2 separate regions of the Homo sapiens genome follow, and region 2 is linked to region 1. A link means that fine-mapping ties the variant in region 1 to the expression of a gene that starts in the linked region. Tissue or cell type: sigmoid colon. Region 1 holds a variant in brackets; the other region holds the start of a gene. All regions are shown on one strand. Distances are from middle to middle.

Region 1 (8,104 bases):
GTTTATTACTGTATTCTACCTTATAGAATAAGGTAGGAAGTGTTCCTTCCCTTTCAATTTTTGGGAAGGGTTTGAGGAAGACTGGCGTTAATTTTTCTTTAAATATTTGGTAGAATTTACCAGTGAAGCCATCTGGTCCTGGACTTTTCTTTGTTGGGAGGTTTTTAGTTACTGATTCAGTGTCCTTACTAGTTATAGGTCTGTTCAGATTTTATATTTCTTCATGATTTAGTTTTGGCATATTATATATTTCTAGGAATTTGTGTGTTTCATCTAGGTTATTTAATATTTAATTTGTTGGCGTACAATTTGTTCATATTCCTCTTCTGTAATCGTTTTTATTTCTGTAAAATCAGCAGTAATAGCCTCATGTTGTTTCTGATTTTAGTTGAGTCATATCTTTTTTCTTAGTTTAGCTGCAGTTTGTCAGTTTTGTTGATCTTTTCAAATAACCAACTCTTGGTTTCATTAATTTTTCTTTATTGTTTTTCTATTCTCTCATTGTCTATCTCTGCTCTAATCTTTATTATTTCCTTACTTCTGCTACCTTTTAGTTTGTTTCCCTTTTTCTGGTTTCTTAAGGTATAAAGTTAAGTTGTTGGTTTGAGACCTTTTGTCTTTTAAATGTATTTATAGCTATAAAATTTCCCTCTTTGCACTGCTTTCACTGTAATTCATAATTTTATTTCCATTTTCATTTTTCTCAATATGTCTTCTTTTTTTTTTTTTTTGAGATGGAGTCTCGCTCTTGTCGCCCAGGCAGGAGTGCAGTGGCATGATCTCAGCTCACTACAACGTCCGCCTCCCAGGTTCAAGTGATTCTCATTACTCACCCTCCCAAGTAGCTGGGATTACAGGTGCCCGTGACCACGCCCGGCTGATATTTGTATTTTTAGTAGAGACGGGGTTTCCCCTTGTTGGCCGGGCTGGTCTTGAACTCCCTATCTCAGGTGATCCGCCCGCCTTGGCCTCCCAAAGTGCTGGGATTACAGGCGTGAGCCACTGCGCCTGGCCTCAATATATTTTCTAATGTCTCTTGTGATTTCCTCTTTGGACTATTGGTGAAGATTTTATTTCCACATACTTGAATTTTTCAGGACTTTTTTGGTTATTGATTTCTAGTTTCATTCCATTGTGATTGGGAAAAATAAAACTTTGTAAGATTTCAATTTTTTAAATTTATTAAAGCTTGAGGCTGGGTGTGGTGGCTCATGCCTGTAATCCTAGCACTTTGGGAGGCCGAGGCAAGTGGAACACTTGAGGTCGGGAGTTAGAGACCAGCTTGGCCAACATGTTGAAACCCATTCTCTACTAAAAAATACAAAAATTAGCCAGGTGTGGTGACGGGCACCTGTAATCCCAGCTACTTGGGAGGCTGAGGCACAAGAATCACTTGAACCTGGGAGATGGAGGTTGCAGTGAGCCAAGATTGTGCCACTGCACTCCAGCCTGGGTGACAGAGCAAGACTCTGTTTTTTTTTAAAAAAGAAAAATTTATTAAGGCTTGTTTTTTTGGCTTACTATATGGTTTATCCTGGAGAGTGTTTTATGTGCCCATGAGAAAAATGTGTATTGTGCTACTTTTGGGTGGAATGTTGTGTATATATATGTTTGGTCCAACTGGTCCATAATATTGTCTAGGTCCTCTATTTGGTTACTAATTTTCTGTCTGGTTACTCTATCCATTATTGATATTCAGATATTGAGTCTCCTACTATTATTGTCTATTTTTCCCTTTAATTTTGCCACTGTTTGGCTCATATACTTTGGAATTCTGGCATTTGGTGCATATATGTTTATAATTGTTATATCCTTTTGGTGAATTGACCCTTTTATCATTATATATATTTTATCATGTCTTTGTCTCTTGTAACAGTTTTTGATATAAAGTCTATTTTGTTTGATATTAGCAAAGCCACCCCTCCTCTTTTGATTACTGTTTGCATAAAATATCTTTTTCCAGCCTTTCACTTCCAACCAATAAATATCCTTAGATCTGAAGTGAGTGTCTTGTAGATAGTATATAGTTGGATATCGGTTTGTTAAAAATCCATTCTGCCAATGTATGTCTTTTGATTGGGGAGTTTAATGTGTTTACATTCAAAGTAATTACTGATAGAGAATCACTTGCTTTTGCCATTTTGTTGCTTTCTGTATGTCTTACAGCTTTTTGTCCCTCATTTCCTTTATGACTGCTTTACTTTGTATCTAGTTGATTTTTTTATAGTGACACTTTTTTATAACGATTCCCTTTACCTTGGGATAAGGTAAAGGATATATAATATCCTAAAGTTGTGACATTCTGTTTTAAATTGATACCAACCTAACTTCAACTGCACACAAAAACTCCTTTACAGTTCTGCCCTTCCACTTTATTTTATTGATGTCACAAATTATGTCTTCATATTGGGTGTACCCATTAACTTAAATTTATAATTATTTTATGTCTTTTAAAATCTTGTAGAAAATAAAAAGCCACATTGTAAAGAAAAATTATAATAATATTTTTATATTTTTTATGTGTCTATCTTTGCTGGAGAACTTTATATTTTCATATAGCTTCAAATTACTCTCTAGCATTTTTTCATTTCAACTTTAGGTGTTTTTTTTCTAGGGAAGGTCTAGTGGTAATGAACTCTCTTAGCTTTACTTTGGGAATTTCTTAATTTTTCCCTCATTTTTGAGTTTTGCTGGATATAGAAGTGTCAAAAAAAAAGTTGACACTTTTTCCTTTCAGCACTTTGACTATATCATCTCATTGCCTTCTGGCCTGAAAATTTTCTGGCTGAGATATCCTTTATAGTCTTATTGAGGATCCCTTGCCTGTGACCAAAACTTTTTCTGGCATTCAAGAATCTCTCTTTGTCTTCAATGGTTTGATTATAGAGTGTCCCTGAGTGGTTCTCTGGAATTTTTTGAGCTCCTTAGATTTATATAATCTTGTCTTTCCTCAAATTGGAGAAGTTTTCAGCTATTATTTTGTAAAAATAATCTCCCTGCCCTTTTATCTCTCTTTTTCTTCTAAGAAACCCATAATTCATATATTATTCTGCTTGAAGATGTTGTGTAAGCCCCTTAGGCTCTGTTCACTTTTCTTTATTCTTTTATCTCCTCAGACCTGATCATTTCTGATAACCTGTGTTTAAGTTTGCTTTTCTTTCTTCTACCTGTTTGAATCTGCCGTTGAACTCCTCTAGTGAATTTTTCAATTTATATATGGTATATTTCAGCCCCAGAAGTTCCTTTGGTTCTTTTAAAAATAATCTCTGTTTCTTTGTTGATATTCTCTTTTTCTTCATATATCATTTGCCTGGTTTCCTTTAGCTCCTTGAGCATATTTACGACAGCTGTTATAGATCTTGCTCTACTGAGTCTGGTGTGTGTGTTTCTTCAGATACTGCTTTTGGAGATTTATTTTGTTCCTTTGATGAGTCATACTTCCCTGTTTCTTTTTATGTTTGTGTTTTTTTGGTTGAACATTGGGCTTTTGAAAAAACAAACACCTATTTCAGTTTTTGCATGTTTTCAGGGGAACCCTCACTAATTAGTGGGCCCCTAAGCCCGGAGATCAGCCCAACATGAAGACTTAAGAGCTGATATTTTCTGGGCATGTGTTCTGTCTGTATCTGTGTGTGTGCTTCCCTCCCTACCTCCCCTCCCTGGTCGCTTTCAAGGGTCTTTAATTCCCAGAGTCTCACCCCAGCTTCTTCTTGTGGCCTTAGATGCTTTTCATTTTCTTTTGCTGTAATTCTTTTCCCCCAGGCATCCAAGGCTTTATAGTCCTCTGGCAGCTTTCATATGCTGCCATCTTTAGCTTCCAGCCTGAAGTCCAAACTATGTTGACGATTCCTGTTTGAGCTCCAT[G/A]TCAGACAAGACAGAAACCAGTACGTTGGGCAGAACAAGTTAGAACATCGTGAACAAGTTAGAACATTGTAAACAAGTTAGAACATTATCAACAAGTTCCATTTTGCTTCTTCCCCATGAGGGAGCGGGGAGTTGGGACGCATCCTCCTGACCACACCATGCTACATTGGGGTGGGGCAAGAACTTGTGAAAACATCATACAATTTTGTACCATTTTGCATATGACTTTTTGTTTTGATTTGGTGGTCACTTGTTTGGTTAGACACTTAAATGGTTTCCAGAGCTCCTATTAAGTTATTTTAGTCAGTCTGGAGTTGTTTTCTTGATGTTTTCATGGGAGAACAAGGGCCTAGTGCTTCTTCCACTGTCTTATTGATACTAATCTTTTGAGATTTTAGTTTTCAATGGGATCTTTTGCTAGTCACTGGTGATGGGCGTGGCAGGGTTGGATACTACAGTTCCCCTGCACACTCAGCTCCTGGTTTTCTGTCTTTTCTCCGCAGTACAAGCGTGGGGGACCTATCATTGCCGTGCAGGTGGAGAATGAATATGGTTCCTATAATAAAGACCCCGCATACATGCCCTACGTCAAGAAGGTAAGAATCCTCTTAGTGCGTTTCTTTAGATTCCTTCCTCTGGAGTGTGCTATAGGCTGTGGTGTGACATGTGGGTCTAATATTTTTCTCATATTAATACATCCTCCAACATCATGTATTAGTGAATTTTCTCTGTTGTTTTATTTCAACAGGGTTGTCACTTATTTACCCTTGATTGAGTTTCATCTGGGAATTTCAGTACACACCTGGTATTGCAGGGGCTGGGAATAAAGGAATTGGCTTAATTGCGTGGTGATGATTAGGAAGGCTTCCTGGAGAGGCGGCTCCAATTCTAAAGTCTAAAGCAGTGGTTCCCAGCCCAGGCTGCACACTGGCTCTATCTGGGGAGTTTTAAGAAATCCCTGCGCCCAGGCCATGTACCATACCAAGCAAAGAAGAATCCTTGGGGTTCTCAGACATCTGGTTTCAGTGTGTAGGGAAGGCTGAGAGCCACTGACTCAATGCATGACTGACCAGCGAAGGGCAGAGCCACACTTAAAATAACAGGCTACATTCAGATCTGCTTTCTGTCCCTTAGTAGCTGAGACCTTGAACAAATGCCTCGAGTTTTTTCTAAACCTCCTTTCTCTCTTCTATAAAGTGTGACTAATAGGAGTATTTACCTTTCCAAATTGTGAGTATGATGTGATATCCCGCAGCTCAGTACTGTTCTAGTAAGTCGTCAATAAATAAGACCTTGATGGAATCATTGGCATTTGCTGTGGAGTACCTTGGAGGTTCGGCCATGGTGTGAGCTGAGGAAGTGTAAGTGGCCGCAGTGACTCCACCTACCTGAAGGCCGGACGGCTTTGGGCCTTGATGCCTGGGCAGCATCCCTTCTGCTACGACGTGCAGAGCATTTTCCGTCTGGAAATTAATTCAGTCCCTCCACGTGGGAGACCGAGGCTCAGTCCCTTCAACTTGTGGGTTCATGCGTACTCTTCCCCCTTCTCACCTGCAGAAAGCCCTCTTAGGAGGAAGCAAGGCCGTGTCCAGGAAGGGTGGCATTCCTCAAGCTGGAAAGGGGCAAGGTCCATTCTGATGGCCATGCCCAGCCACGGCCTGGAGTAGGGCACTCCTTCAGCTTCCTACAGAAAGATCCCATCCCAGCACAGGACTTGAAGCGTCTCCTGCGATACCCCATTCCCGCAGACTGTCTCTTGGCCCTGGGGCCTCTCAGCGGTTGTTGACTCAGTTACTCAGCTGCAGAGAAGGAGAGCCCCACGAGAGGAGAGTGCAGCTCCCTCAGGGACGTCCTGCTCCACTCATGCTTCCCTGGTGTCGGGGCGGAGGCGCCCATGTGTGACTCAGGTGGGCAAAGAGAAGCAGCAGCGTCCAGCCTCTGTGGTCCGGAAGCTCTTGGGAGAATTCACCAGCCTCTCTCTGAGGCTGCTGGGAGAGTGGTGTGAGAGAACAGGTGCCTGCTCCCAGCCTAGCTCTGCAGATCTCTGGTGCTCAGGCGGGAGCAATTATCCCCTCTGGGGTGGAGTCGGTAAATGAATGCCCAGGAAATGTTAAGTGTGTGTGTATGTGGTAGGGACCTAAGTAAATGCTTGCTAAATATCAGTGAATGATAGTGTGAGGTGGTAGATACAGGACTCTTGATTAATCCCACCTGGGCTCATGGATTGAACTCTGCAGCTCTCCTGTGCCTGAGACCAGAGCCCCCTCTGCTCTTTCCTTCCCCGCGTGTGGGACTGGACACGAGCCTTATTCGCCCAGCAGATGATCTCGCTGTCTATCCACTTCCAAAAGATTTCAGCGGAAATAAACAGTCTTGGCATAATATCTGCAGGGAAGATTACGAGAAGACACCTCTGTTGGGATTTTTGATCCAAAAGATCCTAGCACCTCAGCACAGAGCCTTTGGCTCTGGGTTCAGGCCCACGTTGCCATGGGCCCTGTAACCTGCGATGCTTGACTTCACGCCTCCGAGGCGCGTCTCTACTGTGAAGACAGCAACTGCAAGGCTCGCGTAGGACAGTCTGTGTATGAGCGGAGGGCCTGGCGTGGCAGTGACTGCTCTGCGGATGTCAGGGGACGCTCTGAGTGGTGATTGTCGTCACTGCCCCTCAAGCACAGCGTTTCTTCCACTTCACTCTCTGCTTTACAGCTGGGAGGATGCTTCCTGCTGTTCTGGGCATGGGCAGTGCACCGTGGGCACGTGACAGGGCATGGTGGGCCCTCCTGGGCCTTGCCATCCCCCAAACCCACACCGGCCAGCGTGGGGAAGGGACAGGCCTGTTGCTTGTGCTGTGAGAGAAGGGAAGGATGTAGGTGTCGTCCTGGAGGCCTGACCTACTCGCTGGAGCCCAGCAGACAGTGGCGGGTGACACGCGGCAGCAGGCTTCCCTGAGCTGGCCTCAGTGTAGACTCGCCTAGGCATGCTAGCTGGCCCACCGGGCACCTTCCAGATCCGGAGCAACCAGGGGCTGCCCTAGTTTGCCAGCCCTGCCCCTGCTGTGATGGGAATTCATGCTGATTGGAGCTGTGCTGAGCATGGCCGGTGCAGATGGCAGGAGACTTTTCTGTTTTTGGCAGAGAAATAAACGCTTTATTTGTCATCTCTCCTTCTAGCTCTTCAGGCTACCCAACTGCAGCTGTGTGTCACTGCAGAAGCTCTAAGGAGCCAGGGCAGACGAGGGCTTGTCTCATTTCCCCCACAGGCACTGGAGGACCGTGGCATTGTGGAACTGCTCCTGACTTCAGACAACAAGGATGGGCTGAGCAAGGGGATTGTCCAGGGAGGTAACTGCACTTGTGTTGGGCCGTGGGGGCTGGCGGCGGCCCTGGGCTGGCTGTGCACGCTCCCGCTGTGGGACTGCGACCCAAGTAGGAGTTTCTCTGGTGCCTGTTATTCTCCCGTGCATATGGCACTGGGCTGCAGACACCCTTGGGTTCCATGAGTGGGGAGGGTCTGTGTGAGAGATTGTGGTGCGTGGCTGGCTGGGTGGCTGTTCTCCTGCCCTGCTGGGCACTCGGGCTCCAAGGGCACTCTGCAGATGACTGCTTCACGTGCGGGCTTCCTGTTTTCAGAACATCGCAGCTCCGTTCTTCCCAGCTGCATGGGCCCCGAACCTGGTAGTGACTGTGAGCTCCTCTCCATTCCGCCTGGCACCTAAGCCATTGTTTGCTTTATCTCCCAGTGCTCCTGGAATCCCTACAGGCCTAAGCAGTTGCCTGCTAGCAGCACCCCTGGCCTGCATTGCTGCAGTAGCATTTTCACTGTTGACTCCATAATGTGTTCTCAGCATATCAGCCTCCGTGTGCCTCTGAAAATGTCGTCCAGATTACCCTATCCTGCTGAACGCCAGGCATCTCTGTCACACTCAGAGTGAAGCGCAGGTTCTGGGAATGACCTCGAAAGGCCTCTCCACTTGGCCTCCAGGACCTAGCTGAGCTCACCTCCTGCTCCTTCCCTTTGCTCACACCGTTTCACCCTCTTTACTGTTCCTCCAACATCCAGATCCCCAGCCTGGGGGGCTTTGCTCTTCTTCCAGAGAGCTACATGGCTGTTCTCCGAAGTTAGCGAGGCTTTCTGTAGCACCACACTTGAAATTGAACTTCTTCCTTCGTGGGGCTCACTCAATCCTTCTCCCTGCTTTCTTTTCGCCCTCTCACCTTCCAGGTAGTTTATTTATGTC
Region 2 (8,104 bases), 80 kb before region 1:
AAAATTAGCCTGGCATGATGGTGTGCACCTCTGGTCTCCCAAAGCGCTGGGATTACAGGTGTGAGCCACCACGCCCAGCCGAAAAAACAGAAGAATTTTTAAGCCTTCTAATATTTGGATATAGTTTTCCATGTTCCCATAGTTTATTTTATAGACCTGATGGTTTAGAAGCATTTCACTTTCCGCTTTGCTAGCCACGTGGTTATACTTTAATTTTAAGTGCATTTGTGTGCTTTTCCTGAAGCATTTTCACCTAGGCCATCTCACTTAGTTTGAACAAGAGCAGTGCTTCGCACGCGGCTGCTTGCTGAGCAGAGTCCAGCGAACCGAATTGGGCAATATGAGACTGAATCTTTCCATTCCAGGGCCTTCAGATCCCAGCTGTCAACAGCCTGCTGTGTGACGTCACTGAAAGCCTCTGTGCTCTAGTTTCCTCACTGATAAAGGAGGGATACTAATGGTACCCGCTTTCTGGTGCTGTGAGAGTTAAGAGACAATAGACAGAAATGTCAAACATGCAGAACTGTGCCTGGCACACGAGTGCTTGGTAAATGTCAGCTATTCATAACAGAGGAAAAAACCTGATGAAAATAAATCACTTTTGGATAAGGATTTTAATATTCTTACAGACACTCCCCATCCAGCTCTTAGCTCAATGGATCAGGTTATCTGCAAGGACAGCAGCCTCTTGCTGGGTGCCCCATGGAGACAGCGATCTTCCCTCCTCTCTTACCTTCTCAAGGGTGGCCCTTTTCCATCACCAAGGCTGCACTCATGCAGAGAGGAAGCCTTCCCCCCCGACCTGATCAGGCTGATTAACTTCAACTCCCAGGGGAGAAGACTCTTGAGAACACACTTTAACCTTGGGTTCTCACCTGGAGCTCCGCATGATTTTCCATTTCCTTAACTAATGAATGCATCTAGCAGACTCAGTCCATAAAAAAGGCACATTTGAATGATAACAGCCAGAGCCCGGTGGCCGAGCTGGGCTGCCGCCTGCTGAGCAGCTCCTTTAGAAAGGCCTGCACTTGAGCGTTAGTTACCCTGTGGAGGGACAGGAGGCCGGCTGCTTCACTTCCCTCTGCTGGGAGTGGCCCTGCGTGATGGGGTGCATATCCACTTCATTTATTTTTTAATCTGTGGGAGACAGGTTATCAATTTACTTAAAGTTTGAATGTCTGTAAGGATGAAATTTAAAGCTAGGGCTCTGAAGATCTCTAGCAGGGATGTATCTGTCATCTACCTATCCCTCCATCTCAGCCTGTGAACTGCGTGTCATCATGGGTTAAATTAATTACTAAGAGACCACGGAGTCCATTTTATAGCTCAAATGAGCATTTTTCATTTCCTGTAGTAAACATGACTTAAGTAAACAAAGAGTTTCTCTAACAAGGATGGCTTACAAGTAGAAGTGGCTAAATTTTCACTTTTATAAATTTTGCTGCTTTTTATTAACTATCAATAAACCTAGAAAGATGATCTTACAAGTAAACAACAGATTTTGCATACTTTAACCTTAAAGATATCTCTGCCTCAACTCTTTGTTCACAGCTCTCTGACACTGGAATATTAATAGTTGATAATCTTTCCCTTTAATTTTTCACTGATAATATTAGTTCCTAACCCAGGTTTTTGGATCTCACAAGGGTTCTTATTATACAGTTGTCACATACATTTCTTTAAGAAGTTCAACCTAAGAAGAAATCAAGAATTGTCTTTTCTGGTTCATACATTAACTCCTATAGGGTTGTCCACTACTAAAGCAACAGAAAGTGCTGCCTTCTTTTTCTGGAAGCTGCTGTTCTTACAAGAGAGCAATTTAGGAGCAGGAATTGTGCTTTATTAACATCAAAGCACTGGCACAGGAAGTTTGCACACTCAGCTCTGGGAGCTTTTTGATGCTTTCTGCCTGCTTTGGGAAATTAGCTCTTTGTTTCATTATCAGTTATCTGGATGGAAACTGAAGGGAAAAATATTGATTTTTTTTTTTTTTTTTAATAAATTGTACCAGGATGCTGGGTCTGCGGCCCTAGTGGCTGGTCTTTCCTGTGCTTGGGATGTTGGCCTTGTAGAGTTACTTCTGTAATCTCAAGACAGAAACTGACAGCTTTGTTTGATCAAAATTGTTACTTCACCTTGCACATTTTCAAGAGTTCTACAGGTTTAATGAGCACAGAAATCTGGGGGAACTTTCACTCTCCAGGGCTCCTTCATAGAGGTTCTCAAATACTCCATCAGCAGAGGGGAGCCCCAGATGGCAAAAGGACACAGGATATGTCATCTTTCAAATGAACCAATAATCCATTATTTGATTCTTCTACCTTTGTCAAAATTCCTCCAGCAACGCCTGCAGAAAATCACAATTCTTGATACATAGCTTGTTCCAATAAAGCACCACAGCATTTCTAGTGACTGCAGGCCCAGCTGTCAAACTCTTTCAACTTGATAGAGAATATGTACACAAAACCTATAGCTGTCATCATACTTAATAGTGAAAAACAGAATGTTTTCCAGCTGACACTGGGGACAAGGTAACAGTGTCAGTTCCTGCCGCTCTTATTCAACACAGAAATTTTAGTCATCATACTAAGACACACAAAAAAAGGAATAAAAAGCCACGCAGACTGGAAAGGTAGAAATAAAACTCTCCATATTTGCAGATGACATGATTATCTACATGGAAAATGCCAAGTAATACACAAATAACCTCTTAAAATTAATAGGTGAGTTTGCCAAGGTCACAGGATATGAGATCAACATGAGAAACACAATCACATTTCTGTATGCTAACAACAAACATGTAAAAACTGAAATAAAAATAATAACAGTTTAAATCTCTTGAGAGCAAAGGAAATATTTAAGTATAAACCTAACAAAACGTGATAGGATCTGATGTTGAAAAAATCACACAATTCTGATGAAAGAAGTGAAAAAAAAAAAACTATTTAAATAGACAGACATACCATGTTCGTGGGTTGGAAGATTCAACATAATAAGGATACAATTCTCAATTTGATCCATAGGTTGATTGCAATTCCTCTCGAAATACCAACATGGCTTTTTGTAGAAACAGACAAGTTTATTCTAAATTTTATGTGGGAAGGCACAAGCCCTAGAATACTTTAAACTTGACAAAGAAGAATAAAGTGTGTGGCTGTAAAACCAAACTGTAAAAAATTAACAGTTCATTGCTTGCAGTCGAAAAAATGAGGAAAAGATGGACGATCTAGGAAACTTTCAGGGAGCTAAGGTGTCGGAGAGCAAAGTATCCTTGTAAGGAATGAGACAAGATAAACTCCCTCCCCCACACACAGTATTTTCAGAGAACTACATTCTTGGTTTCAACCTGATGTCATAGGCTGTGTTCTTTGCAACGGAAGAAGCAAAGACTTCAAAGGGAGAAATCGGAAGATTTCTTTTTTCATCGTAGGGACTTCACATCAGCGTTTCCAAAACCGAGTCCATCGCCTTTTCCCTCTGCGCAGCCTCTATCCCTTCCTGTGTTTCGCATCTCAATAAACGTCCCCGCCAAGTGACTTCAGCCTGAAACATGCGGCCTCCCGGACTCCTCTCTGTGTCACCGACCTCTTGCGCTCAGTTCTCCGGAGCTGCCGGTTTAACCTCGCAAGTCTTCCCGGAACCCGTGCCCTCCTCCTGGGCAGCGTTACCACCACGAGCGCCTACCTGAGAGGACGCCTGTTCTCATCCAGCCTCCACCCTGCAGCCGAGCAATCTCCGTAAAACGAACACCTGGCTTAGTTTCTGCTGGAAACCGTTGAATAGTCCCCACTGTCTTCTGGAAGGGTCTGGGCAGCTCGGCGTGGCGTCCACGGCCCCACCAGGCCTCTGCCTCCTGCAGGTCCCGCTACTTCGTCACCAAAGCGCCCGCCGCGCTCGCATCTGCTGTGAGGCTGTGCTCGGGCCGCTCCCGCCGAGGGAACGGCCCTCCCAAGGCTCTGCGCCCCAATTCTCGCTCGTTTGCCAAGAGGTAGCCGTGTCGGGGAGCTAGAGTTCTCCGGGGACTCTCTCCTGCCCCTCGTGGCCCTCTGTGGAACCCTCGTTTTAGGATCTGCACGCCGTTTCCAGTCGCGCGCGCGGCACGGAGACCGCCCGCTGTGCCCCGCGCTGCGCTCTCTCCGCCCCTCTCCCGCGCAGGCCTCCCTGTGCCAGCCGGCTGTCGACCCAGGTTAGGAAGCCCGAGGTCGGGGCGTTACCCCAAGGGCCCTCCCGCTTCCCCTCCGAGGGCAGAGAGGCGTCCGCGCCCGGACGCACTGCGGGAACACCTGGAGCGCCGGCGGAGCTCGGCTGTCCCCGCGGGAGGGAGCCCGACGCGCATCCTTGGGACCCGGACCCGGCGCCCGCGCCTCGGGACGGATTTCTGCCTCGGCTGCAGGCGCAGCGCGCAGACCTGAGCCTGCCCCGCGGAACCGGGGCTCGAGTCCCGGCCCGAGCGCGGCGTCGGGGCCAGCGGAGAGGGGCGGAAGCCGCAAGGGACCCTCGGCGCCTCGGCCTGGCCGCGATGAAGTCCCCGCCCCTCCTCAGGTGACGGATCGCCGCTGCCGTCCCGGGCTGCCCACCACCCCGGCGCGTGCCCGGGAGCCTCCACCCTCCCCGGGTTCTGTGGCCGGCCACGCGCCCCAGGCACGCGCCGCGCCGGGCCGCGCCACCAAGCCCGCTGTCCCCAGCTTTCCTCGGCAGATCCCCTGGCTACCCCCACCCTGCGGAGGGGCCGTTCACCAGATGCCAGAAAATCAGGGTGGGGCACGCAGGCCAGGGGCTCCAGCGGCTGGGCACCGTGTCCTTCCCGAACCTGGTGCTGGAAGTGCGCCCGCCTCCGCCTCTCCCAGGCACCCACCGGCACTGCCCAGCCCTGTCTGGAGGGTCTAGGACTGAACGTCTGTCCCCGGCCTTCATCCTGGCTGCAGAGGACTGGCCGGGTGATGCCGCGCTGTCCTGGCCCTGGGCCCGCCTGGAAGACCCGCCTGTGTCGCGGGCCCCCTCCCTGGCTCTGGCCTCTAAAGCGCCCCCGGCACAGCTTCCCGGCCCTTGCAGCCCGGTGGGGCCGGAACCTTCCCCTTGTCACTGTTGTCCTTTCTCCTTTCAGCCCGTGTCTCTCCTGGAAGAGAATGGCGGGCATCTTTTTCCTGCCATTTATCTCATCAGGTTTTGCTCCTCGGTTTAAGCAGGAAGAGAACTTCATGCTTGGAAGAGCGCATCCGTCCCAGCCTAGGTTTGCTTGAGAGCTACATCCCTGGGGAGGGAGGGGAGCGATCTCTCCTTTCTTGGAGAAAATAGTATCGCGAATATGCACAGAACACGTCCTACTAACATATGCACAGAACACGTCCTACTAACATATGCACAGAACACGTCCTACTAACAAAAACTTCTTTTCGCTAGGGTTTCAGCCGTGCCTCCGAGCCCTCTCCCGAATCCTCTCTCCCTTTCCACTTTCTTTCCCTCGCCCGCCCCCTCCAGGTTTAATTGGTCTCATCTGACCCCTCTGGAGCTGAAGAATCGATCTGTGGGACTTGGAACTGAAAGCACAGGTCGGGGTAAGCCCCACTTCACACTGGAGGGCCACAAGTTCCTGATCTTCGGGGGCTCCATCCACTATTTCCGGGTGCCCAGGGAGTACTGGAGGGACCGCCTGCTGAAGCTGAAGGCCTGTGGCTTCAATACTGTCACCACGTGAGTGCCGGCCCCTCACCTCCAGGATCTCGTTACCCTACAAGTGCATCCTGGCCGGGAACCTGAGCCTCCGATTTTGGGGGCCCAGCGTGAGGACTTACCTTCCGCACAGTCGTTTCCAGCACATACATTTAATGCTTAAGCGTCCAGCTGTCACTTAGTCTCATGCTGAGTTTGCTCTGTGATCAAAGACTTGGATAGGGGTTAGTGGGAGAATCTCAAGGGAGGAGGTTATTTCCTCAGGATTCTGTCTGTCTAATGAAGGAACACCAGGCGCCCTTGGGAGCACTCAGTTTAATGACATAAGCTTAAGGCACACTTACAGATAAATATGTACTTACAGATACATGCATGTTTTTAAAACAAAAAAAAATTTTTTTTTTTGAGACACAGTTTGTTGTTCTGTTTGTTGCTCAGGCTGGAGTGCAGTGGCCCGATCTTAGCTCACGGCAGCTTCTACTTCTCTGGCTCAGGTGATCCTCCTGCCTCAGCCTCCTGAACAGCTGGGGCCACAGGTGCATGCCACCACACCAGGCTAATTTTTTGAATTGTTTGTAGAGATGGAGTTTCGCCATGTTGCCTGGGCTGGTCTCAAACTCCTGGACTCAAGCAGTTCACCCTTTAAAAGGGAACACCACGGTCGTCCTCATGCCTGTATACAACTGACCAGCCACCCTGTATGACCACAAAAAAGCAAAACTGCTCCAGAATCAGAGGCCCTGTCCTCCTGAGGGCCTGCCACCACCATTTTGTGGCAAGCTTACCATCACACTCACTGTAAAGGAGAAGATGCTTAGAGGGCCCTGTGCCTTATTGCAGAGCTGGTATTGAAGGGTGAATTTGAAGCTGAGAGGCAGTAAACTGGTTCATTTAAAATGCAAAGAATTTAATCAGAAATAATCGTTGAGTTTTATTGAGAGCTGCTACTGCATGTATTGGGGGGACAATATAGTTTTTCTTCACTGTTCTTTTGAATTGCTGAATTACAACGGCAATTTTTCTGATAGTCAAGCAGCCATGTGGTACTGGTATAAACTCTGCTTGGCTCTGAGATAGGCACACATTACATACACACAGATTGCTAGACTTTATTTGCTAGTGTTTTATTTCAAATGTGTTTATGATTATAAGCAAAACGGATTTAAAATTTTATTTTGTTAGTATTCTTGTCCAGTTTTGAATCAATCTTATAATAAGCTCATAAAGTGAGTAAATCTTCTTTTCTTACTTATTGGAAATATTTTGCACAAGAATTATCTTTACCCTGAAAGTTTCTTAAGATTCACCTGTAAACTCTGTGACTACTATCTTTTGTGGTTTGTGAGGTGAAGGGTTTGGGGACGACATAGCTCTTTGAATGGTTATTAACTCATGTCCTCTATTTCTTCTTGAATACATCCTGCTCTCCCCCTTTTTTTCTTTCCTTTCTTTTTTCTTTCTGTTTTCTTTTTCTTTTTTTTTTTTTTTTTTTTGAGATAGAGTCTTGCTCTGTTGCCCAGGCTGGAGTGCAGTGGCGCGATCTCTGCTCACTGCAACCTCCCCCTCCTGGGTTCAAGTGATTCTCCTGCCTCACCCTCCTGAGTAGCTGGGATTATGGCTCCCGCCACCACACCCGGCTAATTTTTGTATTTTTAGTAGAGATGGGGTTTCACCATATCGGTCAGGCTGGTCTCAAACTCCTGACCTCAGGTGATCCGCCTGCCTCGGCCTCCCAAAGTGCTGGGATTACAGATGTGAGCCACCTCGCCCAGCCTTCTTTCTTCTTTTGAACCCACTGGGACTTAAGAAATTTTTCCTTTCTTTCCTGTACTCACTTGGAAGTTATATACATCACGTTGTGTATTTTGGCTGTTTTTTTCTTTTTTCTTAATCTTATCTATTTAGTCTTTTCAGATAACTAGCTTGTAGCTTTGTTAGTACTCTCTGTATATTTCGGATCTGTATTTCACAGTTTCTGAGTTATGTGTAATTTCCTTTTCTCTACTTTATTAAATATAGTACCTTCTCTTCTCTGTCCTTCTCAGTTTCCTCCTCCTCCTTCTTCTTTTTCCCTGAGTTAAAATTTAGCTTCTTTTACTTCCAGTCTTTTGTGTTTTCTAATATATTCCTTCAAAGATATGAATGTTTCTCTGAGTGTTGCTTTGGTTATATAGCCCACAAATTTTGCTATATAGTGCTTTGAATGTCATTTATTTTCAAATATTTCCTAAGTTTTGATGTTGTTTCTATTAGCTATTTGGGAATACGCTTTCTGTTTTATTTATTTATTTATTTATTTAAATTTTACTATTTAACTGTGATTTTTAAATTTGTTTGCATTTATCTTGGGATCATGGACTATGTGATATAGGTTTTTGGAATTTGTTGAGATTTACTTCGTGACATAGTACATGCCAATATTTTACAACTGTTT

What was found. PIP is the estimated chance that this variant, and not a neighbour inherited with it, causes the effect.
Region 2: GLB1L3 starts here. The variant in region 1 is fine-mapped to the expression of GLB1L3 in sigmoid colon (GTEx, PIP above 0.99). The same link has a PIP of 0.9 or more in uterus and vagina.

Annotation. Positions count from the first base shown.
Region 1 is chr11:134,351,934-134,360,037 of GRCh38, forward strand. GLB1L2 (galactosidase beta 1 like 2) reads left to right here. Exons shown (of 19, transcript NM_001370461.1): 6 at 4,368-4,460; 7 at 7,127-7,208. Among named protein-coding and RNA genes, the nearest start is that of GLB1L2, 24 kb to the left of the region's middle. RefSeq lists an enhancer at 6,784-7,307. The variant G/A (reference allele first, on the strand shown) is at 3,865.
Region 2 is chr11:134,272,222-134,280,325 of GRCh38, forward strand. GLB1L3 (galactosidase beta 1 like 3) reads left to right here and starts at 4,158. Exons shown (of 20, transcript NM_001080407.3): 1 at 4,158-4,542; 2 at 5,105-5,230; 3 at 5,479-5,691. The coding sequence starts at 4,520. RefSeq lists enhancers at 621-1,176, 3,317-3,426, 3,487-3,616, 3,767-3,816 and a silencer at 4,267-4,336.